4 separate regions of the Homo sapiens genome follow, and regions 1, 2 and 4 are each linked to region 3. The links come from fine-mapping of genetic effects on gene expression. A gene starts in region 3. Each other region holds a variant in brackets. All regions are shown on one strand. Distances are from middle to middle.

Evidence for each region. PIP is the estimated chance that this variant, and not a neighbour inherited with it, causes the effect.
Region 1: its variant is the best candidate, but not a certain one, in a credible set for the expression of BICD1 in caudate (GTEx, PIP 0.88).
Region 2: its variant is the best candidate, but not a certain one, in a credible set for the expression of BICD1 in whole blood (TOPMed, PIP 0.57).
Region 4: its variant is the best candidate, but not a certain one, in a credible set for the expression of BICD1 in whole blood (INTERVAL, PIP 0.64).

The regions. Positions count from the first base shown.
Region 1 is chr12:32,128,247-32,136,354 of GRCh38, forward strand. All of the region lies in intron 1 of BICD1 (BICD cargo adaptor 1), which reads left to right. Among named protein-coding and RNA genes, the nearest start is that of BICD1-AS1, 25 kb to the left of the region's middle. RefSeq lists enhancers at 3,761-4,262, 6,044-6,203, 6,214-6,273. The variant A/G (reference allele first, on the strand shown) is at 3,461.
Region 2 is chr12:31,922,592-31,930,699 of GRCh38, forward strand. No RefSeq gene overlaps it. Among named protein-coding and RNA genes, the nearest start is that of RESF1, 33 kb to the right of the region's middle. The variant G/A (reference allele first, on the strand shown) is at 4,405.
Region 3 is chr12:32,102,507-32,110,614 of GRCh38, forward strand. It overlaps BICD1 (BICD cargo adaptor 1), which reads left to right and starts at 4,341. Exons shown (of 10, transcript NM_001714.4): 1 at 4,341-5,038. The coding sequence starts at 4,826. It overlaps BICD1-AS1 (BICD1 antisense RNA 1), which reads right to left and starts at 4,956. Exons shown (of 3, transcript NR_185992.1): 1 at 4,888-4,956; 2 at 2,170-2,267; 3 at 1,611-1,784. RefSeq lists a silencer at 3,864-4,343 and enhancers at 4,704-4,783, 5,311-5,948.
Region 4 is chr12:32,371,268-32,379,375 of GRCh38, forward strand. BICD1 (BICD cargo adaptor 1) reads left to right here. Exons shown (of 10, transcript NM_001714.4): 10 at 6,273-8,108. The coding sequence ends at 6,360. Among named protein-coding and RNA genes, the nearest start is that of FGD4, 24 kb to the right of the region's middle. The variant G/A (reference allele first, on the strand shown) is at 4,287.

The sequences.
Region 1 (8,108 bases), 26 kb after region 3:
AAGGGCTTTTCATAAAGTATTCAAAAAGGTACAAGTTCTAATCTAACAGTTCTATTTGTGATTTTTGAGGAAGCATATGCGTATTTCCACTTAAGCATCTGAAATATTGCCTCTAGTGCTGAACAAATTCTTCCCTTGGTTATTTTCCTCTTATCTCAGTCCCTGGAAGAATAAATGCCTGTACTAATTCTCTATATACATAAATGGTCTCTTTAGGTATAAATAACCTCATAATCACATAAAAGTTAAAGTTTTAATGGAAAAGGCTGAGATGAAATATTACCTAAGTAGGAATTAATTGCTTTTTATCACTTTACATTATTTCATTTTTAGTATTATGAAAAATATAATTGTTCCTTTTCTTAAAAAAAAACCAGCGTAATTTGTGCTTAGTTTTAAACCAAAATTTTTCCTATATGTTTATAGTTTATATTTTCAAGCCAAAATACTTGAGTTTTTTTCCTGTCATAATATATCAATATGAGAAATGTATTGTTACTTTAGAATCTTTTAAAACTTCTTTTTATTCCTTTTTTTGTTTTTTAAGATAGGGTATTGTTTTGTTGCGCAGGCTAGAATGCAAGGGCACGATCTTGGCTTACTGTAGCCTCAGCCTCCCAGGTTCAAGCAACCCTCCCACATCAGCCATACAAGTAGCCGGGACTACAGGCATGCACCACCATGTCCAACTAATTTTTTTTTTCTTTTTTTTTGAGACAGAATCTCGCTCTGTTGCCCAGGCTGGAGTGCAGTGGCACGATCTTGGCTCACTGCAACCTCTGCCTCCCAGATTCAAGAGATTCTCCTGCCTCAGCCTCCCGAGTAGCTGGGATTATGCACCATTGTGCCTGGCTAATTTTTGTATTTTTATAGAGATGGGGTTTCACCATGTTGTCCAGGCTGGTCTCGAACTCCTGACCTCAGGTGATCCGCCTGCCTCAGCTCCCCAAAGTGCTGGGGTTAGAGGCCCAACTAATTTTTTAAAAATTTTTTGTAGGCCGGGCATGGTGGCTTATGCCTGTAATCCCAGCACTTTGGGAGTCCAGGCAGACGGATCACCTGAGGTCAGGAGTTGGAGACCAGCCTGGCCAACATAGTGAAATCCTGTCTCTACTAAAAATAAAAAAAATTAGCCAGGTATGGTGGCACATGCCTATAGTCCCAGCTACTTGGGAGGCTGAGGCAGGACAATTGCTTGAACCCAGGAGGTGGAGGTTGCAGTGAGCTGAGATGGCGCAACTATACTCCAGCCTGGGCGACAGAGCGAGATTCCATCTCAAAAAAAAAAAAAAAAAAAAAAATTCTGTAAACACAAGGTGTCACTATGTTTCCCAGGCTGGTCTCAAACTCTGGGCTCAACCGATCTTCCCACCTCAGCCTCCCACAGTCCTGGGATTATAGACATGAGCCACCGCACCTGGCCTAAAACTCTTTCTTCAACATTAAGAAATAAGACTTTTCCAGTCTCTTTCTTAACCCTGTACCCTTTTCTTTCTCATCTTCTTTTATCCCCTCCCTTCATTAACTTTACATTGCAATACCAAGGACTTAATGGTTTGTTAAAAAAATGAATTCTACTCAGTAGAAAATTCCTGAGAATATTTATTAAATGTCACTGGGAGGAAATTTCCCTAAGCAAGATACAAAACTTAGAATCAAAAGGGAGGACTGACTTATTTGGTTTTAGAAATGAAAAAGAACAGTTTGGAAGAAATAGTGCGATGTGGATGACTTACAAACAATTATTATTCCTAAAATATAGGTACAATGAGTTTATTGAAAACAACATAATGCAATAGGAAAAAAGGACAAAGAGCAACTAGTCAGAGAGGATTTGCAAGTAAATCAGTAAATGGGAAGAGATGTTCAATCTGAGTAGTCAGTGAATGTAAATTAAGGAAGTTTACTTTTTTTCCCATTAATTTACAAAAATTTTAAATATGATAATATACAGTGACAAAATTTTTTTTTTTTTTGAGATGGAGTCTCGCTCTGTCGCCCAGGCTGGAGTGCACTGGGCAATCTCGGCTCACTGCAAGCTCCGCCTCTCGGGTTCATGCCCTTCTCCTGCCTCAGCCTCCCAAGTAGCTGGGACTACAGGCGCCTGCCACCGCGCTCGGCTAACTTTTTGTGTTTTTAGTAGAGACGGGGTTTCACCGTGGTCTCGATCTCCTGACCTCGTGATCTGCCTGCCTCAGCCTCCCAAAGTGCTGGGATTACAGGCGTGAGCCACCACGCCCGGCCCCAAAATTTTTAAATAATGATAATATACAGTGTCGGAAAGTGTGTAGAGGTAGAAGTGTGAATTGCTGTGAACTTTGAGAACGTGGATTGGCAGTCTGTATTAAGATCTAAAATGCATACAGTGCTTGGGCCCAGCAGTCTCACAGAAGCCATAGGTGATTGTATGTCAGTTCCCAAATACCACTCGTTAGAGAGAAGCACTGTTTAACATCTAGTATCTCATTTAGACCCTGTTTGAGCATAGATCATATGTGTGTGGAACATAAAAGTAATCGAAGTATGCTCATTCTTTTTTTAACATATCTTTCCAGGCTTCTATATAGTTAAATAAATAATGCTCCTTGACATTTATGTATTTATTTATTTAGATGGAGTCTATTTCTGTCGCCCAGGTTGGAGTTCAGTGGTGTGATCTCAGCTCACTGCAACCTCTGCCTTTCGGGTTCAAGCAATTCTCCTGCCTTAGCCTCTCAAGCTGGGACTATAGGCATGCACCACCATTCCCGGCTAATTTTTGTATTTTTAGTAGAGACGGGGTTTCGTCATGTTGGCCAGGCTGGTCTCGAACTCCTGACCTCAGGTGATCTGCCCGCCTCAGCCTCCCAAAGTGCTGGGATTACAGGTGTGAGTCACCACGCCAGGCTGCTCCGTGACATTTAAATAAAATCATATTTTAAAGTCCAGTTGTAAGCCTATACATCCCCCTTATCACTTATCTCTAATTCACTTCTAGACCTGGTTTGAACTTTGGATTTAGTGCTTTCAAAGTGTGATTTTTTTAAAAAAATTATTTTTCTGTTGCCGTATATTTCAGCTCTTCTCGGTCTTGAAAAGATTTGTGAGCCTTTTTGACAAAAGGTGGTGCTCATTTTCTATTTCGGTGGCTCCAGTAAAGGGAGCTGCTCTCTCATCGGATGATTATTGCCCCCAGAAGTGGTCCTACCATAGCTTTACTGGTCAGTTAGCCAGAATTTACACATTTACTCTGAGGCTTACAAAAATACTGTGTTCATAAAAAGCCCTCCTTCACATTTTGTGAAACAGTTGCATGGTGATTTGGGATATTTTAAGTTTACCATCACCTCTCTGTCCTCTGCAAAAATAAAAATTGTGGAATGTAAAACAACTCTGTTGCACAAAAAGGGGAACTTGGTGTAGGAAAAAATAACTAGAAATGATAACTACGAGACACTGCACTCCCAAATTGAAGATTTAA[A/G]AAAATTCCTGATCGTAAATAAGAAAAATTATGGAGACATTTATCCACTGCATATCTGATGACTAAACGCTTGGTATACCCCAGCCATTGTTAGGTGCCAGGGTACAAAGTTCCTGCCCTCAGCGGGTTGACACACTTGTGGGGGAGAAAGGCAACAAAAGCTTAAGCAAGTAAATGCATAATTTTACAGGGTGATATGTGCTAAAAACTAAATAAAGCAAGGTGGAGGAATAACAAGACTGGCGGGGGTGCTGGCTGGGGTGGCTATTTGAGAAATGAGGGCCAGGCATGGCCTTTCAGAGGAGATGATGTTGGAGCTGAATCCCAAGTGGTCAGAAGGAGCAAGGTGGGAAAATATTTGAGCAAGATGGGAAAATATTTCAGTTCCTGGGTCAAAAGTAACAGTAAGTGTAAAGATCTTGAGATGGGGGCTGGGCACTGTGGCTCACACCTGTAATCCCAGCTGTTTGGGAGGCCAAGGTGGGCAGATCATGAGGTCAGGAGTTCGAGACCAGCTTGACCAATATGGTGAAAACCTGTCTCTACTAAAAATACAAAAATTAGCTGGGTGTGGTGGCAGGCGCTTGTAATCCCAGCTACTCAGGAGGCTGAGGCAGGAGAATTGCTTGAACCCGGGAGGCGGAGGTTGCAGTGAACCGAGATTGTGCCACTGCACTGCAGCCTAGGCGACAGAGCGAGACTCTGTCTCAAAAAAAAAAAAAAAAAGATCTTGAGATGAGAATGAACTGGGTTTTTGTGAAAATGGCAAATGGCATTTTGGGTACTGCAAGCCTTTGCGGCTCGGAACTGTGCTGTGCACTGTGGGACTGTGTGGCTCAATGCGGGACGGTTAGCATCCCTAGTCACTGTCATTACAAAAACAGTCACACATTCTAGACACCCACTGCCCGCCCCAACGCCAAGGGGGCAGTACTGCCTTCAACCAGGACCCCAAAAGACTCCAGTGTGGCAGTTGTTGGGGAGGGGGAATGTGAGAGGGGCAGTGGAGAGGGAGTCAGCAAGCAGGTTCTCTGAGCCCTGGTGAGAAGTCTGGATTTTATTTTAAGCCGCCTGAGTGATGTGATTTCATACATGTTTTTAAAAGATCACTCTGGTTATTCCTTGCAGACAGTGGAAGAGTGAGCCAAGTTAGGAGGCTATTGCAGTAGTTCAGGTAAGAGATGATGGTGGCTTAGACTGAGAGAGAATCTACTTGAGGGTAAGAAGTGATCTGATTCAGGGTATATGTTGAAAGATTTGCTAATTAATTAAATATGGGAGGCAAAAGAAGGTGGAGAAATCAGGATGGCTCCTAGGTTTCTTATAAGGAGCTAGGAAGAATGTAAAGAAATCATATGATAAGGAGATATAAAAAGGAATAAAATAATATTTCACACTTAAATTTAGGAGACGAAATATTTGCTTATTTGAATTTGAAAATTCTTGTGGATACCAATATTGATACTTTGTCTGAAAAATAATTTTAAGATGAGTCTCCTGGCCAGGCGGGGTGGCTCATGCCTGTAATCCCAGCACTTTGGGAGGCTGAGTCAGGTGGATCACCTGAGGTCAGGAGTTTGAGACCAGCCTGACCAACATGGTGAAACCCCATCTCTACTAAAAATGCAAAAATTAGCCGGGTATGGTGGTGCACACCTGTAATCCTAGCTACTCGGGAGGTTGAGGCACAAGAATCACTTGAACCTGGGAGGTAGAGGTTGCAGTGAGCCAAGATCGTGCCACTGCAAGCCAGCCTGGGCGACAGAACAAGACTCCATCTGGGAAAAAAAAAAAAGATGAGTCTGCCAAAATGTTTCTCATTTGGAAGGGATTCATGACTTTGCCAGAAAAACAAGCAGCATTCTATAGTTATAATGCTCTATGATGTAATTTACTGGACCTAAGTTGGCTACCTTTCATGATGCATATTAAGTGTGGAGCCATATTTCTTAGTTTCTGTTATAAAGCTAAACTGTTAAGTCATTTTTATTCCTATAAAGTCAAACAAACTAGCCATGGATACTTTTTAACATTCTGTGAAACCAACTTTATCCAGTTTCTGAAATGGATGCCAGTTCTTTTTTTTTTTTTTTGAGATGGAGTCTTGCTCTGTCCCCCAGGCTGGAGTGCAGTGGTACGATCTCTGATCACTGCAACCTCCGCCTCCCGGGTTCACGCCATTCTTCTGCCTCAGCCTCTTGAGTAGCTGGGACTACAGGCGCCTGCCACCACGCCTGGCTAATTTTTTGTATTTTTAGTAGAGACGGGGTTTCACTGTGTTGGCCAGGATGGTCTTGATCTCCTGACCTGGTGATCCACCCACCTCGGCCTCCCAAAGTGCTGGGATTACAGGCCTGAGCCACTGTGCCTGGCTGGATGCCAGTACTTTTTAAACCAAAGTTAAAATAATTATTTATAGGAAGCAGTTGTGCACTGTAGATTAGGAACATGGAGACTGGGGCATAAATATATTCTTGAGCTAGAATTAAAGTAAAACATGTGACTGATGGAAATAACAGCTCTCCCTGTGCCCTACCATGGAACTTGGTAAGCCTTTGTTAACTCACTGGCACTGCTAGATCATGCTATGGTCCCCGAGGGCCAGGGAGGCAAGTGTGCTAGTCCAAGTAAAAAGCTGATATGATCTTTGTATGAACAGAAACACTGTTTGTAATGTGATGATAACGTTGGTTTCTTGCTCCTGGGATATTGTGTTCTAGGTAAAGTGGTCCAGAGACCAATGGGTGGCAGATACAGGGATACAGAGGTCAACTTAATATAAAAAAAGACCTTCTCTAATGTCTAAGAGCAGAGTGAAAGTGAGCAGGCCATCTGAGGAGAGAGAGACTTCCCTGTTGGCTCATCATGATGCTTAAGCAGAGCCAAAAAGCTACTTGGTAGGGATGTCAAGGAAGTGAGTCAGGTGTTTTCAGCACCGCGACTCTGTCATTGTGTGCCTCTCTCCTTAATACCTCAGAATTAGAATAAAGTCTTGATAACAGTAGTGGCACCAGTCCTGTGGTTTGTTTTGCGATGACTGTGTGGTTGTTAAACTTTCTAAGTGAAACACCATAGTGTCGGGAGCAATGCCGACAAGCCTGGCCACCTTTGGTCTACAGCAGATATTGCAAGCTGATATCCCGTGGCCACAGTCAGGCTTGGTGATTGATAAACATTTTGATTTAGGGAGCTGCTTTTTTCAAGAAACAGAATCACATAAACAGGATTTCAGGCCAGTCTCAAAAAACTGGAAGATTTCACAGAGCCTTGGGCCCACATTTCTGTGTGGCATCAGAGGGCTAGAGGTGAATGAGTCCTCCTCTCCTCTCCTCTCCCCCTCCTCCCCTCCATTCCCCTCCCCTCCCCTTCCCCGCTCCCCTCCTTTATTTTTTTTTTTTATGAGACGGAGTCTCACTGTGTCACCCAGGCTGGAGTGCAGTGGTGTGGTCTCAGTTCATTGCAACCTCCATCTCCCAGGTTCAAGCCATTCTCCTGCCTCAGCCTCCTGAGTAGCTGGGATTACAGGTGCATGCCACCATGCCTGGCTAATTTTATATTTTTAGTAGAGATGGGCTTTCACCATGTTGGCCAGGCTGGTCTTGAACTTGTGACCTCAGGTGATCCGCCTGCCTCGGCCTCCCAAAGTGCCGGGATTACAGGCATGAGCCACCATGCGTGGCTTTTTTTTTTTTTTTTTTTTTTTTTTTTTTGAGACAGGGTCTCTTGCGCTGTCACCTAGGCTGGAGTGCAGTGAGACAAACACAGCTCACTGCAGCCTAGACCTGCTGGGTTTAAGTGATCCTTACATCTCAGCCTCCTGAGTACCTGGGACTACAGGTGTGCATCACCACACCTGGCTAATTTTTAAATTTATTGTAGAGACAACACTTCACTATATTGGCTGGCCTGGTCTCAAATTCCTTGCCTCAAGCGATCTTCTGCCTTTACATCCCAAAGTGCTGGAATTACAGGCATGAACCTTCACCTTTCTTTTAGAAAGAGCGTGAATCTCTAATTCACCAGAGTCCCCACCATTCCATCTCATCTGAGTTATCTCACTATCTCTGTTCTTCCCTCATTTACATCATCTGTCACTTACCTGTTGACATGTGAGTTTTGACTTTTGATTGAGATGCTGACACCCTCCTTCCCTTCTAGGAAAGGAAAATAAAGGGGGAAGGAAGGTGGAGAGGGACAAAGGAGAGGCGTGTGGAGGATGATAGCGCAGGACTTGCATTCTCAGTTCTGCCTCTTAAATCTTGGAACCTATTTCTTCATCTAACAGTATAGGACTGATGTTTATTTTTGTATTAGATCATATATATAGGAGTACCTGGCATATAACTTTGTCCAAAGTACACATTCTTTAGCTGGTGCTCCTCTGTGTTCCCCTGTAAAGACTGAGGCAACTATAATGTTCCACTGTTCTGTGATTATTGATTTTCAGGTCTGTTTCCTCCACCAGATTATGTGTGTCTTACTCAACTTTGTATCACCAAGCACCTACGTGGCATTTTTTCTTTTTTGAAGGTAGGGACCATGGCTTTCTCTTTCTTTACTGGACACTGTATAGATGTCATGCAGGTCTGAACGTCACACTGTTAAATAATTACTTAACAACTGACCAGAACTAAGGCTGTGGTCTAGA
Region 2 (8,108 bases), 180 kb before region 3:
ATAAGTGAAAGAGGAAAGCTCTCCACTGCAGAGAGGGGACCTGAGAGGGTTGCCATTTCACAATTGAGTACAAAGGCTGTTATGAGGAACCCAGAGGAACCAGATGGGTCTGGGCATTTCATTTGCATAACTGAAATTGCATAAGTTGTGAATTTCTGGTAGCTCCACCCTGTACCCCTAGTGTGCTGGCTGACTGGTGGTTGTCTTTAGAAAAGGCACCACTTAGAAAATGGCATGATGGTGTAAAGGACCAACTGGAGCCTTGGCTCACAACCAGCCTAGTGTTGGAGTGATGATTCATAGAGGTTTGGCTCACAGTCCAAAGTATGCCCAAAAAAGGAAAGGAATGTACTCACCACAGCCCACCATCTACATGCCCACAAAAGGAAAAGAAACTATTTCCTGGAAGGCTGCTGCTTACACAAAGAACAAAGGTGCTTCTATGTTGGGCCTTGCTTCCTTATCTGTGCAGCTATGGGTATATCCTAGGCAAGCTGCCTGTGCTAGTTCCCTTATCTGTATCTGTAGCCTGAGTTTTCAGGTTGTTCCTTTGTTTGAAAGAATTCTACTGAGCACCTGCCCTAACCGCCTTCCTAGCTGGTTCTTTCTTTTCTCCTCTCTCAGCTTGATGCCACACTGTTGCTGTCAACGAAACTAAAATTATGGTGGCTCAACACATTGAACTGACAGATTAGGCCTACAATCATGAATCCTACCCTAACCACATATGTGCACCACAATTGGGGCCCACATCCTCAACTCCTCCTTGTTGCTCAAATTTGGACTATTCCATTTGACACAGATCATCCACTATCATTACCATGACTCCCTCCTCCATGGGACATGACTTCCTGGGACAAATCTATTCCAGAACCAAAGGGCTTACTGAAATAATTGATCTCAGTGGTTTCTAAGGAAATATTTAAATCAAAAGGGGAAAATCTGAAAAGAAATCCAAAATGGAGATGATTATGCCAGAGGTCTCTAAAAAGGAGCCAGGAGGGCATAAGGAGTTGGACCCCCATCACCCATATACTCAGATGAAATTTGACATGTTCAAATTGGACCAAATCACAAACATCCTAAAGAAGCAGCTGAATTTGATGTGAACTGTTTACACTGGGCCTGATCACAAATCTCCTGAGAAGACAGCTGTGCCAAATTAGGTCGTTCATCACCAAGAGACATCTAAGCTGTCAATCAGCCATTGTCAATCATAGACTGTGCTAAAATTTTCCACTTGTATAAACTTGCCAGGAACCTTTATAAGCCCCTGCCCAGCTTGTCTGTATGGAATATGATTTAGCTGCTTGCTCGATTTGTGTCTCTCAAATTGCAATTTATAAAAGATCTCAATTAAAATACCTTCTCTCATATGCTTGTCTGCAGTGTTGGTTTTACTTCTTATTAGTTGCCAATAGATAAAAAATGGACATGCACAAAAATTGATTCTATATTTATCTAGGATGAATTGTTCAATAAATAGTATTGTGACAACTGAGTAGCCAGCTGGAAAACGAGAGTTGAACTCCTACAGCTTACCTTCCATTACAGTTAATTCTAGGTGGCTCAAAGATGTAAACATTTTGCAAAGTTGTAAATCCATAATGAAAACCAGGAAAAGATGTACATCCTCTTCCCAAGCATGCTAAAGTCTTAAGCAGGCATTACATAAAATAGGAATTACAAATAGCAAACAGTTAAAGCTGTTATCCCCCATAGTGAAGAGGAAAGCCACAAAGTTATCTGTGTTATCCACCAGAATGACTGAGTTTATTTTATTTATTTATTTATTTATTTTATTTTTTTGAGACGGAGTCTCACTCTGTCGCCCAGGCTGGAGTGCAGTGGCGTGACCTCAGCTCACTGCAAGCTCCACCTTCCGGGTTCACGCCATTCTCCTGCCTCAGCCTCCTGAGTAGCTGGGACTACAAGCACCCGCCACCACGCCCGGCTAATTTTTTGTGTTTTTAGTAGCTGGGATTACAGTTGCCCACTATCATGCCTGGCTAAGTTTTTTTTTTTTTTTTTTGAGACAGAGTTTTGCTCTTGTTGCCTGGGCTGGAGTACAATGGCATGATCTCAGCTCACTGCAACCTCTGCAAAATACAAAAATTAGCTGGGTATGGTGGCATGCACCTGTAGTCCCAGCTACTCGGGAGGCTAAGGCAGGAGAATCGCTTGAACCTGGGAGGCAGAAGTTGCAATGAGCCAAGATCACACCACTGCACTCCAGCCTGGCGACAGAGCGAGACTCCGTCTTAAAAAAAAAAAATATATATATATATATATATATATATATATATATTTTTTTTAAGAATGTCCATTTCACCTTTGCAAAAGCCAAAAGATAGAAACAACTCAAATATGATCTATAGAATATCCATATAGTGATACCCAAGAAGCTAGAATATTAGTTGCCTTTGGAGAAGCAAACTGGATGGCTGAGATGCAGAATTGGGAGTGTGATTAATTTTTCCTTTTATTCTTTTGACCATGCCTAGATTCTACCAGTTAAAAATAATATAAATTATTAATAAAAACATGAAGAGTTGATTAACATACATCACATATTTTGAGTACAGGGATAAATATGGGAGACATGCTGTCCCAGATATCAAAATATAAAGCTATCAAAACATTGTTGGCCAGGCGTGGTGGCACATGCCTACAATACCAGCACTTTGGGAGGTTGGGGGAGGAGACTGGCTTGAGCCCAGGATTGTGAGACCAGCCTGGGCAACATAGTGAGACTCTGTCTCAAAAAAAGAAGAAAAAATAACATTGTCATATTTAAGCAGGGACAAATTGGCCACTGAAAAAGAATAAGGTCCAGAAATAGACTCAAGTGCATATGTATACTATATAGCAACCTAAAGTTTCCTTTCAAATTGTGGGGAAAGATGAACTATTCAACAGGTGCTGTTTTGTTTGTTTTCAAGAAAAATAAAAATCCTTACATCATATCAAATAATAAATACTTTTGGTGGCAGGGCAGGGGGGATTTAAAAATTTTAAGCCAAATAAAGATATAAAGCTAACAGAAAAAAAATTTTAGAAAATACTTTCATAACTTCCAAGTGAGAAGGTATGTGTGTATAAATATATACCTTAAATATGTATACTCTATGTATATTTAAAGAAAATGTATACCAATTCTGTAAAGAGGTAAATGATAATTGCTTGATTTTTTTTTTTTTTTTTTTTTTTGAGATAGAGTCTCACTCTGTCGCCCAGGCTAGAGTACAGTGGCGCGATCTCAGCTCACTGCAAACTCCGCCTCCCGGGTTCATGCCATTCTCCTGCCTCAGCTTCCCGAGTAGCTGGGACTACAGGTGCCTGCCACCACGCCCAGCTAATTTTTTGTATTTTTAGTAGAGACAGGGTTTCATGGTGTTAGCCAGGATGATCTCGATCTCCTGACCTCGAGATCCACCTGCCTCGGCCTCCCAAAGTGCTGGGATTACAGGCGTGAGCCACCGCGCCCAGCCAATTGCTTGATTTTTGATACCATGCCAGATCATTTTCCAAGTCCACTTGCCCGAATGTCACACTCGTAAGAAATGATAAGTATCCATGTGGGATTGGTTCTAGGATCCACCCTCAGTTACCAAAATCCACGGATGCTTAAGTCTCTTATGTAAAATTACATAGTATTTGCATATGACCTACTCACATCCTCCTACACACTTTAAATCATCTCTAGATTACTTATAATACATAATACAATGTAAATGCTATGTAAATAGTTGTAATTCTGTATTGTTTAGGGACTAGTGACAAGAAAAAATAGTCTGTACATGTTCAGTACAGAAGCAATCTTTTTTTTTTTTAAGAGACAGGGTCAGGCGTGTATACAGGCGGCACATGTTAATAAACTGTTTCGGCCAGGCACGGTGGATCATGCCTGTAATCCCAGCACTTTGGGAGGCCGAGGTGGGCAGATCACGGGGTCAGGAGATTAAGACCATCCTGACTAACACGGTGAAACCCCGTCTCTACTAAAAATACAAAAAATTAGCCGGGCGTGGTAGCAGGCGCCTGTAGTCTCAGCTACCGGGAGGCTGAGGCAGGAGAACGGCGTGAACCCGGGAGGCGGAGCTTGCAGTGAGCCGAGATCGCACCACTGCACTCCAGCCTGGGCCACAGTGCGAGACTCCATCTGAAAAAAAAAAAAAAAAAAAAGACGGGGTCTCAGTCTGTTGCCCAGGCTGGAGTGCAGTGGCACAATCATAGCTCACTGCAGCCTCAAACTCCTGGGCTCAAGCAATCCTCCCACCTCAGCCTTCTGAGTAGCTGGAACTCCACACCACTGTGCTAGGCCTCTTTTTTTGTTTTGTTTTTGGTTTTTTTGAGACAGTTTTGCTCTTGTTGCCCAGGCAGGAGTGCAGTAGCACAATCTCG[G/A]CTCACTGCAACCTCTGCCTCCCAGGTTCAAGTGATTCTTCTGCCTCAGCCTCCCGAGTAGCTGGGACTACAGGCGAGTGCCACCACGCCCGACTAATTTTTGTATTTTTAGTAGAGACAGGGTTTCACCATATTGGCCAGTCTGGTCTCGAACTCCTGACCTCGTGATCCACCCACCTCGGCCTCCCAAAATGCTGGGATTACAGGCGTGAGCCACTGCACCCCGCCAATTTTTTGTATTTTCAGTAGAGACAGGGTTTCCCCATGTTGGTCAGGCTGGTCTCGAACTCCCGACCTCAGGTGATCTGCCCGCCTCAGCCTCCCGAAGTGCTGGGATCACAGGCATGAGCCACCTCGCCTAGCCTGTTTTTTGTTTTTTTGAGACAGGGTCTTGCTCTGTCACCCAGGCTGGAGTGCAGTTTTGCAGTGGCATGATCCCGGCTCACTGCAGCCTTAACTGCTCAGGCTCAAGCGACCCTCCCACCACAACCTCCCAAGTAGCTGTGTCCCACAGGCACACACCACAGTGCCTGGCTAATTTTTTTATTTTCTGTAGACATGGAGTCTCCCCATGTACTCAGGCTGGTCTCAATCTCCTGGGCTCAAATGATCCTCCCCCATCTTGTTCTCCCAAAGTTCTGGGATCACAGGCGTGAGCCACCGCCCCCAACTACTTTTTTAAAAATATTTTGATCTGCAGTTGGTTGAATCCTCAAATGTAAAACCCACAAATATGAAGAGCCGACAAGAACCAACATCTGACGAAGGTACAGAAAAACTACTGCACTACTGCTCTATAAGATTAGAAATTAATCTGTAAACATTGATACATTGTTAGGATGCTTTTGCCACCTGATAGAGACATTAATTCCAAATGTTCCAGGTCTTTATTGCCCTGAGAAAGTTAAGCAATCTTATAACTAATTTAGCAAATTTGTGTAAGGATTTTGCCTTTCAATATGAATGTATGTTCAAAGACAAAGGTCTGGAAAGATATGCACAAAATAAAATTAAACAGTGGTTATTTCTGGGGAGGAAAGTAGGAAATTGAATTTTTGCAACTTTTTGTACTTTTGTATTTTTCAGAAGTTCTTGTTTTTAAAATGTCAATGTAAAAGCACACACACAATAAATGTCTCCATCAACTCTTTGTCCACGACTAGAGAAATGGTTTAGTAAACTATATTTCTTTTCCTTGGAAACATATTCAATCATTAAAATTATGTTTATAAGGATTACATTATAACATGTAATTAAAGAAAGGGAAAACTATGCACAGAAAAGTTATAGGAGGAAAAACACCAGTGCATTAATTATATTGATAATATTTTATTTTTTTAAGTATTCTTATCTAATGAGAATGTAACATTTTTGTAATAAGGAAAATGTTAGTAAAAACAAAACACAGCATGTTTCAGCATGCCCTGACTCTTCTTTGAGGATATGTGATACAATAGATTGGCCTTTTGTGACTTTTACAAAAGGTTGTAGTTTTTGTTCCCTCCACACTTAAGAATTTTATCTCACATCATGAATATCTGACTTCTGGCTTTTTTTTTTTTTTAAGGTAAGCAAGCTAACATTTAAAACTGTGATTAAATAAGAGTATCTTTCAAGGTTTGGCTAAGGAGAGCTAACATTTCCGTGCTGTGCTGTTAATCAAAGGAACTTCTTCAGCTGGTTTTGTTTTGTTTTGTTTTGAGACGGAGTTTCGCTCTTGTTGCCCAGGCTGGAGTGCGGTGGCAGGATCTCAGCTCACTGCAACCTCTGCCTCCTGGGTTCAGGCGATTCTCCTCCTCCTGGGTTCAGGCGATTCTCCTGCCTCAGCCTCCTGAGTAGCTGGGATTACAGGCATGCACCACCACACCGGGCTAATTTCTGTATTTTTAGTAGAGACGGGGTTTCACCATGTTGGTCAGGCTGGTTCCTTTTTAACTGAAACATGTCAGAGAGGAAAAATTTTCCTCAACCCTCTTATGTTTTGTAACTGAGGGCCTGCAAATTAAACTAATAAAAGACATAGTAACAGGAGAAAAGGCACACCATTTTTATTAATATTTGCATGCAAAAGAGTTCTCAGGAAAGAAGTAGTTAGACTTGCGGTTTTATGTACCTTTTTAACAAAGGAAAGAGGGTTTGAGCTTCAAGGAACTAATTGTGGGGCACTGAGTAGGAAACATGGGGGAATTAATGGAAGATAAGGGCTATTTTAGAAAGATCTGTTTATGCAAATTCATCTTGGTGTTAATTCCCATCTTTGGTAAAAATCACTCTTCTCTCCCTGGTACTGGGTGGGTGGGGAAGCACCTTCCTCAATGGGAAATTTATGCCCTGCTTTTAGGCTCTGTCACCCAGGCTGGAGTGCAGTGACATGATCATGGCTCACAGCAGCTTCGACCTCCAGGGTTCAAGCTATCCTCCCGCCTTAGCCTCTTGTGTAGCTGGGACCACAGGCTAGCACCACCACACTCAGCTAATTAAAAAAAAAAATTTTGGTGGAGATGTTCCCGAACCGAACCAGGCCTGGCTGTATGTTCTCACAGCCCAATAATGAGATGCAGATGGACTGGGAAAGAAGGGAGTTTATTTCTGTAACTGGATACAGGGAGAAGATCAGAGATTATTCGCCAGACCAACTCAAGGTATTACAATTCTTCCCATGCTCATACATGTTTGGACTACATGCCTACGTGCAGTATCACATTTGCCTAAGTTTATCAGTAATTAATTTTGCTTCAACTAGAAGGTCAGAGGCCAAAAATGCCCTCTAAATCTACCTAATCCGTGAGGGTCCTCGTACCAGGGTGATTAAGAAATGTCTCCTAAATTTACTTAAGGAGGATCCTGGCACCAGAGCAATTACTTCTACTTTATCTTACCTACGGTTTGGTCCTAAGAGTTGCTCCAGACCCTCCTCCTTAAAATAAATCGTTTCAAGGACTGTCTATGTTACCTTGACTCGCCCCAGATGTCAACCCGAGACAGATCCTGGTACAAGGAATGTAAGGCTGTCTCCATTATCTTGACGTGCTCCAGGTTTTAGGAGAAGCCTGTGCAAGGCACTTACTGAACATATATTTCATTTCTGGTTCTGACGTCCGAGCATTGATTTTCCCTAGACTTAATTGTTAGCCCAATATTAAGGCAAGCGCTGTGGAAATTCATCTATGTAAATGGAGTGCTATGGAGCCCTGTCTGTGTGACTGTCAGGGAGAACTGGCCTGCCACAGATATGAGGTCTCACTATGTTGCCCAGGTTGGTCTCGAGTTTCTGGGCTCAAGTGATCCTCCTGCCTTGGCCTCCCAAAGTGCTCGGATTACAAACATGAGCCACCGCTCCCAGCCACCTGCATCTCCTGATTCTCAATTACCTTCAGCTCAAAATTTTCCTATGACAATGTGTCATATTTTGGGGTCGCATATTCAGATCCCCTTCAAACAAAGATGAATAAAGTCAAAACACCTATGGGGTAAAAATTCCTCATTCTGAAGGCACCAGGTAAAGATTATGCTCTTTGGAGAGACAAGATAGAAACTGCCATTGCAAAATTATAACTGAGAAAATTATGACAGTAAAGGAGATCTGAGCTAACCAACTCCATCTTGCTTCAAGCTATCCAATTTGACTCCTGGGTGTACGTAGAACTAACTCAGGGAGGAACTCAATTTATAGTTTAACTTTCCCCAAACAAACTTCCTTCCTG
Region 3 (8,108 bases):
GTTGCCTGACTTCTTGATATAGTCTTAGGCCATTTCCCTTGAGCTTCTTAATCCTCAGCCTCTTTCATTTTTTTTTTTTTTTATTTGTTTTTGAGACAGGGTCTTGCTCTGTCACCCAGGCTGGAGTGCAGTGGCACGATCATGGCTCACTGTAGCCTTCACTGCCAGGCTCATGGGATCGTCCCACCTCAGCCTCCCAAGTAGCTGGGACTACAGGTATGCACCACCATGCTCGTTCGATTAAAATTTTTTTTTTTTTTAGTAGAAATGGGGTCTTGGTATGTTGCCCAGGCTGGTCTCGAACTCCTGAGCTCACATAATCCTCCTACCTTGGCCTCCCAGAGTGCTGAGATTACAGGCATGAGCCACTGCACCCAGCAGCCTCTCAGATTTTTATTCTTTGCACTCAACAAGCTCTTTTCTGCCTTTGGCTTTTACACATTATTTCCTTTCCCTGAAAAGCTTCTCCCCCACATTTTGTATATCCGACTCCTTTTTGTTCCTCATAGATAATAAAATGAATATCACTTCTTCAGAGAGATCTCTACTGATTATCTTTTTTTCTTCTTTCTACCTAAATTTTATCCTTGTTTTTCTTTTAAAACTTTTAAAAAGCACATATAAAATGCTTATGTGTGTGATACTATTCTATTCACAACAATCTCATAATTAGATTATATTATTATCTCCTTTTTAGATATGACACAACTGAGAAACACACAGCTAGTAAGTGGCAAAGTTGGATATGACCCAAGTAGACTAGCTTGTGCTTTTTTTTTTTGCTTTTTTTCTTTTCTTTTTTTTGAGACGGAGTCTCACTCTGTCACTTGGGCTAGAGTGCAGTGGCGGATCTCTGCTCACTCCAACCTCCAACTCCCGAATTCAAGTGATTCTCCTGCCTCAGCCTCCCGAGTAGCTGGGATTACAGGCGCCCACCACCACACCCAGCTAATTTTTGTATTTTTAGTAGAGATGGGGTTTCACCATGTTGGTCGGGCTGGTCTCGAACTCCTGACCTCAGATGATCCGCCCACCTCGGCCTCCCAAAGTACTGGGACTACAGGTGTAAGCCACCGAGCCTGGCCTTTTTTTCTTTTCTTTTGGTGAGTCTTGCTTTGTCACCAGGCTAGAGCACAGTGGCACAATCAGTACATTGCAGCCTTAATCTCTTGGGTTCAAGCCATCATACTGCCTCAGCCTCCTAAGTATTGGGGACCACAGGCATGTATTACCATGCCCAGCTAGTATTTTTTAATTTTTTGTAGCCATGAGGTCTCGCTATGTTGCCCAGGCTGGTCTTGAACTGCTGGCCTCAAGTGACCCTTCTGCCTCAGCCTCCCAAAGTGCTAGGATTACCAGTATGAGCCACCACACCCAGCCTAGGAATGCTTTAAGAAATTATTTTCTATATACCTGTCATTGATATATATGCAATACATATGGCATATACGAAAAAAGAGGGAACTGTAACTATGCAGTACTGGAACAGCATGGTGTATAGGAAAATAAATTTGGCTGGGCATGGTGGCTCACATCTGTAATCCCAGAACTTTGGGAGGCCAGGGTGGGAGGATCACTTGATCCCAGGAGTTTGAGACCAGCCTGGGCAACATAGACAGACCCTGTCTCTACAAAAATTTAAAAAATTAGCTGAGTGTGGTGGTATTCATCTGTAGTTCCAGCTACTCAGGAGGCTGAGGTGGGAGGATCGCTTGAGTCCAGGAGGTTGAGGCTGCAGGGAGTCATGATCATGCCACTCCACTCCAGCCTAAGTGATGGAGACCCTGTCTCAGAAAAAAAGAGAAAAAAAACAAGAAAATAAGTTTATCTTCTTTACGTTAAATACCAACATTTAAGGATCAAAGTTCAACTAAGCAACATCTTAAAGTGTCAGAGTGTGCAAGACATGCCTGAAATCAGACAAAAGTGACAAGTGACAAAAGTGTATCAATCAGAAAAACGGGGCAGGATAGAGCATAGGGGCTGGACCACAATGGAAATTTAGCAAAAAGGAAAGTCACAGAGGCAAACTCTGTTCTTAGTTTGATCCAAAGGAGAGGGAGGCACAGGCAATCTAGTGCGAGTCTTATGATCCCTTTGGAAGGCCTATGCTTACAGTTTGTAGAGTGAGGAACAGCCAGAGGCTTCCTGGGAAGGCAGGTTAGCTACCTGCAATTGCAGGTTCCATCTCTTTTCAGCAGTTCATCATCATTCATCAACGTGTCAGAGGTCAGATGCCACGGGAGCACACAGGAGGGGCTTCCCACCTGGAGTGCGAGATAAGGAAAGATGGGTCGGATGTTGTAGTCATTATCATCCGCTTCTCTACAAGGCTGGAATTTATGGTGGCTGCACATTTGGAATGTTTTCTCCTTTTATTTATTTATTTTTAGATCAGACAATCACAAGAGAATATTCTTTTGTTTTATTTTTAGATCAGACAATCACATGAGAATATTCTGTTGTGATCGCTGGCGTTTAGAAGGAAACTTGTCTGGTTTGTGAAGCAATGGAAAACACATCCAGACAGCCTGCTAGTGGAAACTTTGGAAGGGCACTGTCATATGCTTTTTCTCCCACGCCATCAACAAGTGTCCTTTTTTTTTTTTTTTTTTGAGATGGAGTCTCTGTTGCCTAGGCTGGAGTATAGTGGTGCCATCTGTACCCTCCACCTCCTGGATTCAAGCAATTCTCCTGCCTCAGCCTCCCAAGTAGCTGGGATCACAGGCGTGCACCACCATACCTGGCTAATTTTTGTATTTTTAGTAGAGATGGGATTTCACCATGTGGGCCAGGCTAGTCTTGAACTCCGGACCTCAAATGATCCATCCACTTCTGCCTCCCAAAGTGCTGGGATTATAGGCGTGAGCCACTGTGCCCGGTCAACAATCATCTTTTTTTTTTTTTTTTTTTTTTTTACCAGGTACACAATGATGGGAGAGTTGAGTCCTGCTTTCTAACTTAGAAAACGCATGTGTGTTCATCACCTGGTCACTGAGAAACAGCTCTGGAATAGGTGCCATGCAGAAGAAGAGAGGGAACTGGAAAGACCCACTGATCTGTGGGTCTCACAGCCTCCCGTTACACAGAAATTGCTTCTTTTCTCTCATGTTGCGTTCTTCCTCTTGATTCTCGACCCTTCTCCACTCTTTCATTTACTCCACTCTTACTTTGCTTTCACCTCCTTTTGTAACCGTTCATCATCACTCTTCATATGGATTAATGTGATTATCTTAAAAGCATGTAATATGTAGTTGCTGGGTTTGTATGAGTAATGAGTGAACCTGAAGCCAACATAATGATCCCGTTTAGTGCTCCCGAGTTAAGATTCCAGAGTTGCCTGACTTTGGACAAATCACATCTCCCTTTGCCTTTCACCCCCTGTAAACTGAGGATAATGGCTCTTACCTCAAAGCATTGTTAGGATTGGAGAGAACGCATGTTACATACTTAGAAGAATGCTTGGTATGGGTCTCAAGAACTCTTAGCTCTTATTGTTTAAAAAATGCTTATTACAGGGCATCGTTGGTATCTTATATAGGGAATTTCAAGCAGTTTTCCTTTATTGAAGACACAGAGTAAGGTGCTTTGATGGAAACTATTGGGGCAAGATATACAGTACCTAGCTAGAGGTTTCCTGGGTGCATGTATTGTGGAGATATTTTTTTTCTGAGTGGATAGCGCTCTTGTGATACGCTGGGTGAGGGCGAGCAATATTTAGCGGACTGTCCTGTGAGGATAGTAAGGTTATCTGGTGAGAGTGTTAGGTGGCCCAGGCCAGACTTGGGAGAGGCAGGGAGAGAGGGGGACGACGGAGGAGGGCGCCTTGGGGTGCGTCTTGAAAGCTTTGGGAAACCCAGCGGTCTTTTGGGGGCAGGTGGCCCAAAAAGCCTTCTGCGCGCCCAGGGGACGAGGAGGATGCGCGGACCGCGACCGCGATAGTTTTGTTTGCTTTTCTCGGGAGAAAGCGTTCCAGGCAGTTTCCTGAGCTTCGGCCCTCGACGTAGCAAAAGAGCCCGGGCGCCCACGCCGCTCTCGGGGTCTTCTACTGCCACCGGGACAAAGCCCTGGGAGGAGCTCCCGCCCCCGCGAGCCGGACAGGGCGGAGGCTCCCCCGCCGCGCGCGCCCCACCGCTTCCCAGTCCCAGACCCGTCGCCTGCGCCTCCTCCTGGCGCGCCTCACGGTGCAGCGGGCGGCGGCCCGCGCGCCCGGCGGGAGGCGCCTCGGGATGTTTCCGTCTGGTCCTTCCCTCCGCCCCCCGCGCTGACTCCATCCGCTCCCCGCCCCCTGCTCGGAGCCGCCGCCACGCGGGAAGGGAGGGAGCCGGCCCCGAGACTGCATCATTCCGCACCGGCTGCTGCAGGGCCAGAGGGAGCAGGTGGAGCGAGAGAGCGAGCCGCGAGCCGGAGCGCGCCAGACCCAGGGCGAGACTGCAGTGACGCGGCCCGGGAGACATGGCGGACGGGCGTCTCTGAATAAGCAGAATCCGGAGCCCCTCGCTACCCGCGGCCGCCGCAGCCCGGGCCATGCCGCACGGCTGCTGACCGCACGCAGGGGCCGGCCCCGAGGACACATGCGGCGGCCTTTGCCGCCTCGCCCCTGACCCTCTGCCCTGTTCTCCATGTTGCATTTCTCGTCAGTTTCTCGGGCGGTGTAGCTGCCGCTGCCACCAGAGCCGGCGGGGCATCGCGCTGCTCATTCATCCGGCCGCACTTTCTTTTCCGTTTCCACCCATCCCTTCCCATTTCCTTCTCCCTTTCCCCGCCAGCTTCGCATCCATCTCCCCCACCCCGTAACCCCCTCCTGCCTCCATCCACCGGGGCTATGGCCGCAGAAGAGGTATTGCAGACGGTGGACCATTATAAGACTGAGATAGAGAGGCTAACCAAGGAGCTCACGGAGACCACCCACGAGAAGATCCAGGCTGCCGAGTACGGGCTGGTGGTGCTGGAGGAGAAGCTGACCCTCAAACAGCAGTATGATGAACTGGAGGCTGAGTACGACAGCCTCAAACAGGAGCTGGAGCAGCTCAAAGAGGTGAGTTGCCTGTCACCTCTCCCTTTCCTGGCCCTCACTCCCCCCACCCGCAAGGCCCACTCATCATGATCAAGAAGTCATAAAGGAGGTGATTGAAAGGACTGTTTTTTCTTCTAGGGCCCTTTGTTGGTAAGAGAAGATTGAAAGAGTCCATTGTTTCCTCCCCCAAGAGAAAAATTGCCTAAGAAATGAATATATAAGCTGGAATTTGGGAGGCAATGGCTGTTTGGCCTGCGGGGGAGGGAGATTAGTAAGAGTCATCAAGTCTCAGCACTCTAAGACGACATTCAAGTGGGTTGGAATGTATAAATCAAACTTCTCAAAACCGCTGTTATCTCAAACCCAGGTTTCAGCGACAATTTCGTAGTCCACAAAAGTGATGAGGTTTGTGCCTGAGGACCCACAATTTCAGGATTTAGACTGTGTGGCACCTCAGCTTTCCTCTGGATGTAACCACTCCTTGGTGAGAGAGGGAACTCCTCACCAATCCCATTTGACAAAGGCTAGGCAATCTTCATTCTGCTTGGCTTTAGTCATTCTTGTCATTGGGCTGCAGAAGAAAAACAACTTTGCTGGGTGATCCCACTGCCTTGATTTCACCTCGGAGCGAGGCTGGGCCATGTCCAAGTCTTATGAGGTCACCCTGACTAGAAAAAATTGAACTCACCTACAAATAGTCTGAAAGAGTGGTGTATATCAAATACGTGGGTAGTGTTGCATTTCAAATGAGGCTCTTCTGGTTGAAATGATATATTTATAAAACCAGAATATCAAAAATGGGTGATGTATAATGTCTCTTTAGTTTTTTGGTATTTGGCCTCTTTTAAAGCCTGTCGGATGTATGGGAGAAAACAATGAACGTGCTTTGATTTCCTATCAGTCACTCTTAAGAACATACATATTGTTTAAGTAACTCGGTCTTTTTTATCTGATTCTTGAGGCACTATGGGTAGCAAATAACCACTTACAAATTTAAATGTAATATACACTCCTTTTCTGTGTGTCAAGTCCTTATTTTTAGGTGCATATTGACATTTAAATGTTAATTATTGTTTGGCATATAATATCAAAAATCTATTATTTATTTTATGCTGTTACAGTTAAAAGATGTGATTTATGACATACTGAATCAACTTGCCTTCCAATTTAGTGTGTAATATGGTAAGCATTTATACTTTTAGATATGTCTTATTTTTATTTGGATGCCTGTCTACCAAAAAATAAATGTACTACCTATGATTAAAAATCCCAACTAGGAATCTAATTTTTGTGTGTCAGGCTGTAAATTTCTGGTTCCTATTTTACTTACCATGTACCTGTCTGGTCTTAACAACAGCTGGACTTGTTTATATTTTCCAACTTAGATTAGGCTGACATGTTTAAATGCAGTGATGCTAAACCTTGTGAAGTGAGGAAGCAGGATGATGACTGTCATTCTCAGAGATGTTTTGATATTGTCTATACCTATCAACACTGCTTTGCCAAGATAGGGAAGTGCAAACCAGAAAGTGGTAAGCCATCACCTTCTTGATAAAGGAGATGGACTTAATTTAATGAAATGTACCTCTTACTGACTTTGCTGCTTGATTTAAACAATCCTTCTAGGGATATTTCTGTCATTGCACTTACCTTGCATAGCAAACCTTAATGCAATTGTGTTTTGCCTTTGCTACACCATGAGCTTTGCATCCCAAGTCTTTAACACAAAAGCTAGCACACAGTGGGCATGAAATATTTTATGAAAGAATCAGTTTGTACTAGAAGAAGGCACACTTTTATCAAGGGTTCACTAGTCAATATTGATTAGTGTTAGATAAATACTAAGAAAATTAGGATGTATAGGAAGTGACAGATGTTAATAAAACTACCTGTATTAGTTTCACCAGCAGTAATGAGAAAAATGTGAAAAAAACGTTTTGTAGGAATAATGTAACTGTGGTTTCTTAATACAGAATAATGCAAATACCAACTAAAATTTTTTCTATAAATATTTTAATATATATTTTGTTCTATATAGCAGGAGGTTAATAAAAATTTACCAGCATTATTTTTACTAAACGATTCTTGTTCATATATTTATTTTCAGTTGCATTTAGCATAAGTGAAATTCGAGATTCCTAAAAAACTGGTTTATACAGTTATATAAAAATGTATTTTAGGTAATAAAATTATTATAGTTGATTATTTGATAGTGAGGCCTATTATTTTTATTCTTTAAACATAGAATATACTTTAGTTGGAAATATAACTTAAATGAGTTAAATTGATTTCAAGTAACATTTCTTGTATGAAAAGTAAATCCAAAATAATTGTGCAAACTGAGGTGTTCCAACACCTCAGTTTTGAAAAATATTTTGTGAGTGTTTTGATTTTTCAAAAGAAAGTTTTGCTCATCAGGTATGTATAGTAAATGATGTTGCATTATATCTATAAAGCCAAGCATAAAATAAATCTTTGCTTATTTCTAGGATTTTTGAACAAATATGATTTATTTAAAAATAATTGAACCAGTTTATGGGAATGTCAACAGAAAACTACTGTATTAAGTCCAAATTGGACATTAGTAATTTGCAGTATAGCAACATGGCTCAGTCTTTGCAGATCATTTTGTTTTCCAGAGTCAGTACCCACCAATGTTGCTACCTTCCTTCCCAGGCTAGGTACTGCTGTGACAATAATGCAAGTCGGCAGTGTTGCCTAAAGATGTGCAAAATCAAGAAGATGAAATTCATTAAATTTTTTTCCTAGTTATTTCTTCCCTCAACTCAATTGTTTTTTGACCTGGCCTGATGTTGTTTAGTGCTCTGCATGGACTACTGTAATTCAGCTCACAGAAGAACACACTTGAAAGAATAGTACTAAGGATTTGAAAAAAGGATGACTTCTGACATCATCAAAGTGTTCTCCTTTTCATGATTCTTTGGGCAGCTGGACAGAGCAGTATGTCCACTAGAATACTTGAGTCTGGTTTTGTGATTTCACAAGTAACACTTGCTCTTCAGTGACCTGAGTGAGGGTCACCCATGCCCAGTTATGTTCAGGGCCTGGCTGATTATATGTTTGGGATGTA
Region 4 (8,108 bases), 270 kb after region 3:
TCTACGTAAAGAAATGATTAAATGCATATAGATCTGAAAAGACTCTTTTCCAAAATTGCTGGGATGATGACTGACTCTTTTCCCACCCATACACACTGCCAAATGGGTCAATGTTAATACCTTCATTGCCCTTTTTACTCCTTCTTGGCAGAAAAGTTAACACATAGCCAACATTCGAATTCTTAGTATAAACCAGACAAGGGTTCATTTCTTTACACATATTAAACATTACAGCCTTCCATAAGGGATAAGCACAGTTATTACACCCATTTTTGTTGTTGTTTTTGTTTGTTTGGTTTAGTTTTTTGGCGTTTTTTTGTTTGTTTTTGTTTTTGTTTGAGACAGAGTCTCCCTCTGTTGCCCAGGCTGGAGTGCAGTGGCGTGATCTTGGCTCACTGGCACCTCCACCTCCTGGGTTCAAGCAATTCTTCTGCCTCAGCCACCCGAGTAGCTGGGATTACAGGTGTGTGCCACCACACCCAGCTAATTTTTGTATTTTTAGTAGAGACAGGGTTTCACCATGTTGGCCAGGCTGCCCTTGAACTCCTGACCTCCAGTGATCTGCCTGCCTCAGCCTCCTAAAGTACTGGGGTTACAAGCATGAGCCACCACACCTGGTCTTACACCCATTTTTATGTGACGAAATTGAGGTTTGGGAAGGTAAAATGACTTGTTCAAGGTCACATATCCTGAACACAACTGAGCCTAGTGACTCCTACCTACCACCACAGGTGGCTGCACTGCAGAGGAGAAATCTATTTCAGTTACACTGTGAGGAGCAAAGTCAGAGTATGTAAATCACCCACCATGATTCCTTTTCCCTCAAACTGAAGAGGAATGTTTGTTTAATGAGAAACAGAAGATGTGCTAAGAATGTTGAGTTATTTCACATCAGGTGTTCTGTTTCTCATTTTGAAAAATGATTTTGAGTGCTGGGCCCAGTGGCTCATGCCTGTAATCCCAGCACTTTGGGAGGCCAAGGTGGGCAGATCACCTGAGGTCAGGAGTTCGAGACCAGCCTGGCCAATATGGTGAAACGGCATCTCTACTAAAAATACAGAAATTAGCCAGGCATGGTGGCAGGCACCTGTAATCCCAGCTCCTCAGGAGGCTGAGGCAGGAGAATCACTTGGAACAGGGAGGCGGAGGTTGCAGTGAACCAAGATCACGCTTGGACAACTCCAGCTTGGGCAACAGAGTGAGACTCCATCTTAAAAAAAAAATTATTTTGTACTTCCCTCGGTTTATACATATATTCAAACAGCTTTTAAGGTGAATGATTTTTTAATAAAAGAGCATTTTCTCACCTTTAACAATGTAGAACTTTTCAGCCGGACATGGTGACTCACCTCTGTAGTCCCAGCACTTTGGAAGGCTGAGGTGGGAAGATTGCTTGAGCCCAGGATTTCTAGATCAGCCTAGGCAACTTGGTGAAACCCTGTCCTTTAAAACAAAATACAAGAATTAGGCATGGTGGCCTGCATCTGTAGTCCCAGCTACTCAGGAGGCTGCGGTGGGAGGATCGTTTCAGCCTAGGAGTTCAAGGCAGCAGTGAGCCGAGATTGTGCCACTGCGCTCCGGCCTGGGTGGCAGAAGAGGACCCTGTCTCCAAAAACAGAAAAAAAGTAGAACTTTTCCATGTATACTTTTTACAGGCTAATTCCATTGTAGAGCTAAATTATCAAAATTGTTTATAGATAATAGGTATTATAATATGAAAGGAATGCCCAAGGTATATAGCCTTGGATATAATATTGAAATATATAGAGTTGTTTGGTATTTAGCACTTCCCTTCTATCAAGTAGTTTTCTACTTGGGAAAAAAAAAGAAACTTCCTGAAGATGTATCCAATTTTATATCTTAGTAACAGCTTCCTAAACTTGCCATTTACAACATGATCTACCTATGTAAAGTAAAATCAATGGTAAATGTTGAATAACAAGTGGACTCTTGAAAATATTTAGCAATCACAACTGAAACTGAATTCATTCTATGCCTTAAATGATTATAATTTATCAAATATTTATATCCAAGAAATAGTATCTTAACCTGTAAGCCAAGAATGTGTGTCTTACAGGTTAATTTACACATAATATACACCATGTGATTGCAGCATTTTATGCAAATTAAAAATATTAATACTATAGATAATAACTTTATGTAAGAAATCTATCTAAAGGAATGAAAAAAATTTAAATCATCACGAATGATGTAATGTCAAGGTGTTAGGCAAAGTGAGTTGTAACCCATATTTAAGCTATAGCTACACACTTCAGCTGGTCAGGAAGAAATATTTGTCTTCCTTTATCAAAAAGAGTATTGGGGCCAGGTGCAGCGGCTCACGCCTGTAATCCCAACACTTTGGGAGGCTGAGGCGGGTGGATCACAAGGTCAGGAGTTCGAGACTGTCATGGCTAACACAGTGAAACCCCGTCTCTACTAAAAAAAAAAAAATACAAAAAATTAGCCAGGTGTTGTGGCATGTGCCTGTAGTCCCAGCTACTCGGGAGGCTGAGACAGGAGAATCACTTGAACCCGGAAGGTGGAGGTGGCAGTGAGCCAAGATCGCGCCAGTGCACTCCAGGCTGGGCGACAGTTTGAGACTGTCTCAAAAAAAAAAAAAAGTATTGGATTACACAAGGTCTTCAAAAACATATCTTTCTTGGGTGGACACAGTGGCTCATGCCTGTAATCCTTGCGCTTTGGGAAGCAGAGGCAGGCTGATCACTTGAGGTCAGGAGTTCGAGACCAGCCTGGGCAACATGGTGAAACTCTGTCTCTACTAAAAATACAAAAATTAGCCAGGTGTGGTGGCGCAGGCCTGTAATCCCAGCTACTCAGGAGGCTGAGGCACTAGAATTGCTTGAACCTGGGAGGCAGAGGTTGCAGTGAGCTGGGATCGTGCCACTGCACTCCAGCCTGGGCGACAAAGTGAGATTCTGCTCAAAAAAAAAAAGAAAAGAAAAGAAAAGAAAAAAAAGCCATATCTTTCTTGTGTAATGTGACGATTCTGCATTACTTGCCATAAATCACATTGCATAATATGTTTAGTTCCCTAAAAAGAAATTAGTTCTGGTGCTGACTTCCACAGCACGTATAGTAAAATTGGAGTTTTTTTTACTATATGTGCTGTGGAAGTCAGCAGTCTAAGTCATGCATATTTGCAGAAAAACTGTTAGGTCGATGGGAAAGTCTGGCCTATAACCTGCTGTTTACCAGGCCGTCAAACTCTGTTTGGAGGGTCAAGTGTGAATCTTGCCATACATTATTTTCTGTTTTAAATATTTTCTTTTCTTTCTTCTTTTTTTTTTTTTTTTGAGACGGAGTTTTGCTCTTGTTACCCAGGCTGGAGTGCAATGGCGTGATCTCAGCTCACCGCAACGTCTGCCTCCCGGGTTCAAGCGATTCTCCTGCCTCAGCCTCCTGAGTAGCTGGGATTACAGGCATGTGCCACCACGCCCGGCTAATTTTTTTTTTTTTTTTTTTTTTTTGTATTTTTAGTAGAGACAGGGTTTCTCCATGTTGGTCAGGATGGTCTTGAACTCCCAACCACAGGTGATCCGCCTGCCTCGGCCTCCCAAAGTGCTGGGATTGCAGGCGTGAGCCACTATGCTTGGCCTAAGATTTTCTTCATTTATTTTCCTTTTTTTTTTTTTTTTTTTTTTTTTTGAGACGGAGTCTCGCTCTGTCGTCCAGGCTGGAGTGCAATGGCGCGATCTCGGCTCACTGCAAGCTCCGCCTCCCGGGTTCACGCCATTCTCCTACCTCAGCCTCCGGAGTAGCTGGGACTACAGGCGCCCGCCACCACGCCCAGCTAATTTTTTTTTTTAATTATTTTTAGTAGAGACGGGGTTTCACCATGTTGGCCAGGATGGTCTCTATCTCCTGAGCTCATGATCCGCCCGCCTTGGCCTCCTGAAGTGCTGGGATTACAGGCGTGCGCCACCGCGCCCAGGCTTATTTTCCAATTTATAAATGAGGCCGGGCACGGTGGCTCGTGTGTGTAATCTCAGCACTTTGAGAGGCCGAGGTGGGCAGATCACTTGAAGTCAGGAGTTCGAGACCAGCCTGGCCAAAATGGTGAAAGTCCGTCTCTACTAAAAATACAAAAAATTAGCCGGACGCGGTGGTGGGCCCTTGTAATCCCAGCTACTCGGGAGGCTGAAGCAGGAGAATTGCTTGAACCCAGGAGGCAGAGGTTGCAGTGAGCCGAGATCGTGCCACTGCACTCCTGCCTGGGCGACAGTGAGATTCCATATCAAAAAAATTTACAAATGAAACTATGC[G/A]CTATTTTCTTAGGCTTTTTGTTGAAGGTCCAGTTCTCCCATGTTTACATACCACATTTTAAAAATAGGTAGGAAAAACAATTTTTATCACTGCTTGTCTTAACCAGTACAGAACAGCAAAGCTTCTTTTAAACTATATTTACAGCACTTCAAAGAGTTTGGGAAGAAAGAATAACCTCAAGCCAGTCAGATATTTTCCATAATTATGATTTTGTATTAAAATGCAAGAGATATAGGTAGAGGATAATTTCAGTACCAAAGATAAAAATTATTTAATACTAATTTTAATGACTCCATTACATTTTAAACTCCATTAAATTTAAAGCTAATTTTAATTAGCTTTAAAAAGCTATGCTTAAATTAATAGTAATAATGAGCCTTGAATTGTTCTCTCAAACATCACTTCTGGTAGAAATGAATTATATAGTACTGACTTTCATAGTTTAAGGGAATATAACAGAGTTTTAGAAAAATACTCTTTTCTAATTAAAAAAACAAATCTCCATGTTGTGATTCCCCCATTGCTAGTCACATTTTTTTTTTTTTTTTGAGACGGAGTCTCGCCCTGTTGCCAAACTGGAGTACAGTGGCGCCATCTTGGCTCGCTGCAACCTCTGCCTCCCATGTTCAAGTGATTCTCCTGCCTCAGCCTCCCGAATAGCTGGGACTACAGGCACACGCCACCATACCCAGCTAATTTTTTTTTTGTATTTTTAGTAGAGACAGGGTTTCACCATGTTGGCCAGGATGGTCTCAATCTCTTGACCTCATAATCCTCCTGCCTTGGCCTCCCAAAGTGCTGGGATTACAGGTGTGAGCCACCGCGCCCGGCCGCTAGTCAAATTTTAAAAGGCCCAAACCCAAATGTGTTTTGTCATTTTACCCTAGGAAACTCAATGATTTTGCTTCTTTATTCTTCAAGATTATTCATCCAGACCCTGATAGGCCTGAGCACAGGTTCATTTAAACTAGAGGCTATCACAGGCGTCGTTTGGAAAGTTACATTATACACTTAACAAATGGGAAATGTTAGGCTGGGCTCGGTGGCTCACGCCTGTAATCCCAACACTTGGGGAGGCCGAGGCAGGTGGATCACCAGAGGTCAGGAGTTCGAGACCAGCCTGGCCAACATAGCAAAACCCCATCACTACTGAAAATACAAAAATTGGCAGGGCATGGTAGTGCATGCATGTAATCCCAGCTGCTCGGGAGGCTGAGGCAGGAGAATCGCTTGAACTCGGGAGGCGGAGGCTGCAGTGAGCTGAGATGGAGCCACTGCACACCAGCCTGGGCAAAACAACGAGACTCCATCTAAAAAAAAAAGGGGGGGGGGGGTGAAATATAAAACTCTTCCTTATACCTCCAAGCCCAAGCAGGTAGGGGGAATTCTTAGAGCAAATTAGACTTCCACAGGCAAATTCTTTATCCTAGTGAATCTGGATCTACCAGATAACTATAGAATCCTCTAAACTCCAAAGCCTTGGTCAACCTGTCAGTACCATCAGCATCACTGGGAGCTCATTAAAAATGTAGAATCTCAGATCTCACCCCACACCTAATGAATCCGAATCTGCCCTTTATACTGAGCTCCCCAGGTAATTTGCATGCATATTAAAGTTTGAAAAGAACTGATCTCATGAAATCTTACAGCTAACACAGAGACCTAGGAGAACAAGACCGTGCAAAAATTGAGAAGAACTTCTGTAAAATGCTGGGGGCAAGAAAATAGGGAAAACAAGAAAAGAGAAGAGTGACTTTGAGGGAAGAGTGCATATATCATTTCCTTAATACATTTCATTTTTCTTTTTTATGCCTTGTTTTGAAAAGCTACCATTATCTTGGCATGCTTTAGATGGAAACCATTTACTGTGCAGATTTCTGTTCTTGTTCTCAAAATCTATGCAAAAATATCTCGTCTAACCCCTACCATTGTGCCTGGCCCTTTGAAATGTGTTTCTTGCTGACGTGCTTGTTTCTCCTTTCCAGTCCTGACACAGCTCTCCCTGAGGAGCAGCCACATTCCAGCTCCCAGTGCGCCCCTCTCCACTGTCTCTCCAAGCCTCCTCACCCCTAGTCTTCATCTCCTGTGGACGAACATCTGGGGTGGAAGTTTTGTAGCCACACACAGGATACTGCCCAAGATCCAGCGGGTGTTTTCTTCTCGGTTGTTAGATGTACAATTGGATTAATGTCCATCGTTTTGGAAGACGAGAGAAAGTTGAGAAGAACACGAAGCACAGACCCTGATGTGATAAAACATTTTGTGGTTTCTCTGAGTCACAGATAAACTTCTGCCATCAAATGGCTACAGTTCATTTAAATTTAAAAAAAAGAAAAAAGAAACAGAAAACGTGTCTCAGATGGCTGGCTTTACCTCGATAGCATAAGAGAGACCTAAGACATGTAAAATACGTATATTGCAGTATCATCTTTCCTCACACTCCAAATTCAGCTAGGGAAGTTGATTCCAATATGTTTGTCATTGATATTTATTTTGTACTTTATTTGCTACATGATTTATGTCTATACAAATAATTTCTCTGAGGTGAATTTAATTCATTTATTTTCAAATAAGCATAATTTGCTCAATTAAGTATGAGTTTGAATTTAGTTTGAAATCTGGAATTGGCCAGACTGTGGTCATTTTTCTTGCACAAAATGATAAATGAGGTGCATCAGAATGTTAACAATAACTGTATTTTGCTGCTACGCTGGTATTGTTTAGGCACTTACTTTCTAATCAGTAGCTCATTAACTGCTGGGTTTTGTTTTTGTATTTTTAACTAGAGTTCTTCACTGGACATTACTAAGTAAATCTAAGAAAGAGACTAAGTTATGATTTATTGACTTATTCAAGTTTTGATGGCATCTTTACTTTTATTTTTTCATTGCAGTTGAGTAGATGTACTGGTGCTGCTCCTTTGTATGTGTGTATGTGTGTGATAACGTTAAAGAAGGCTCAATAACTTGAAGGGAAAAAAATGGTGTGTTTATTTAATGACCAGAATTTTTTTTACTTCTCCCAAAATCAGGGTCCTACTGAGTCTTTCCTGATAAAAGGTATCAAGTACAAATGGGAAAATATATACATATATAGATGTAAGATAGCCTTTAATTAATTAATTTACCCAGAGAGTGTTCAAAGTTTGATTAAAATTGTATGTTTTGTTGTTGTTAGTTTTTTTCATAACGAATCTTCCTTGCCAAAAAAACAATAGATAATAAACCTTAGCTCATTGTCTACTTTTGACAAACACTCAGGTGCCTACAAACATTCTATTATCTTGAGATAATACATGTTCCTGGTTAATTTACAGATTCTGCTGGGTAACTTTTATGACTTGATTTAAGGCAGTGGATTTTCATAGCAAAATTTATTTTGCACATAATCTGACAAACAAGGAAAACAGCTAACTGAGCTGAAAGGTCTAACACTCTCGGGCTCCTTAACCATCAAGTGCTGCCCACACAATTGCTCCTAGCCCTGATTCCTTGTCTTTGTCAGGTAGCCTTAACTTATTTAAAACCATAAGGGTTTGACCTTTTCATATAAAGACATCTGTAACTTCTCTTCAAAACAAAAATGACCCTCACTGTTAACACAAAGGACAGTTACCAGTGTAGGGCACTGAGAAAGGAGATCCAGGAGCCACTCAGCTTATTGAGCGGACATGGGTGGCACAGAAATGGAGTGGTCCATCAGAGACCAAATGGTAAGTCGTAAAGCACATTGCAGGAGCTTTCGTTAGTCATACGCCTATTAAGTAGTGGTCGCTATTACCAAAGCAACCAGGACGTTTTGTGTTCTTTATATGAGTGCTA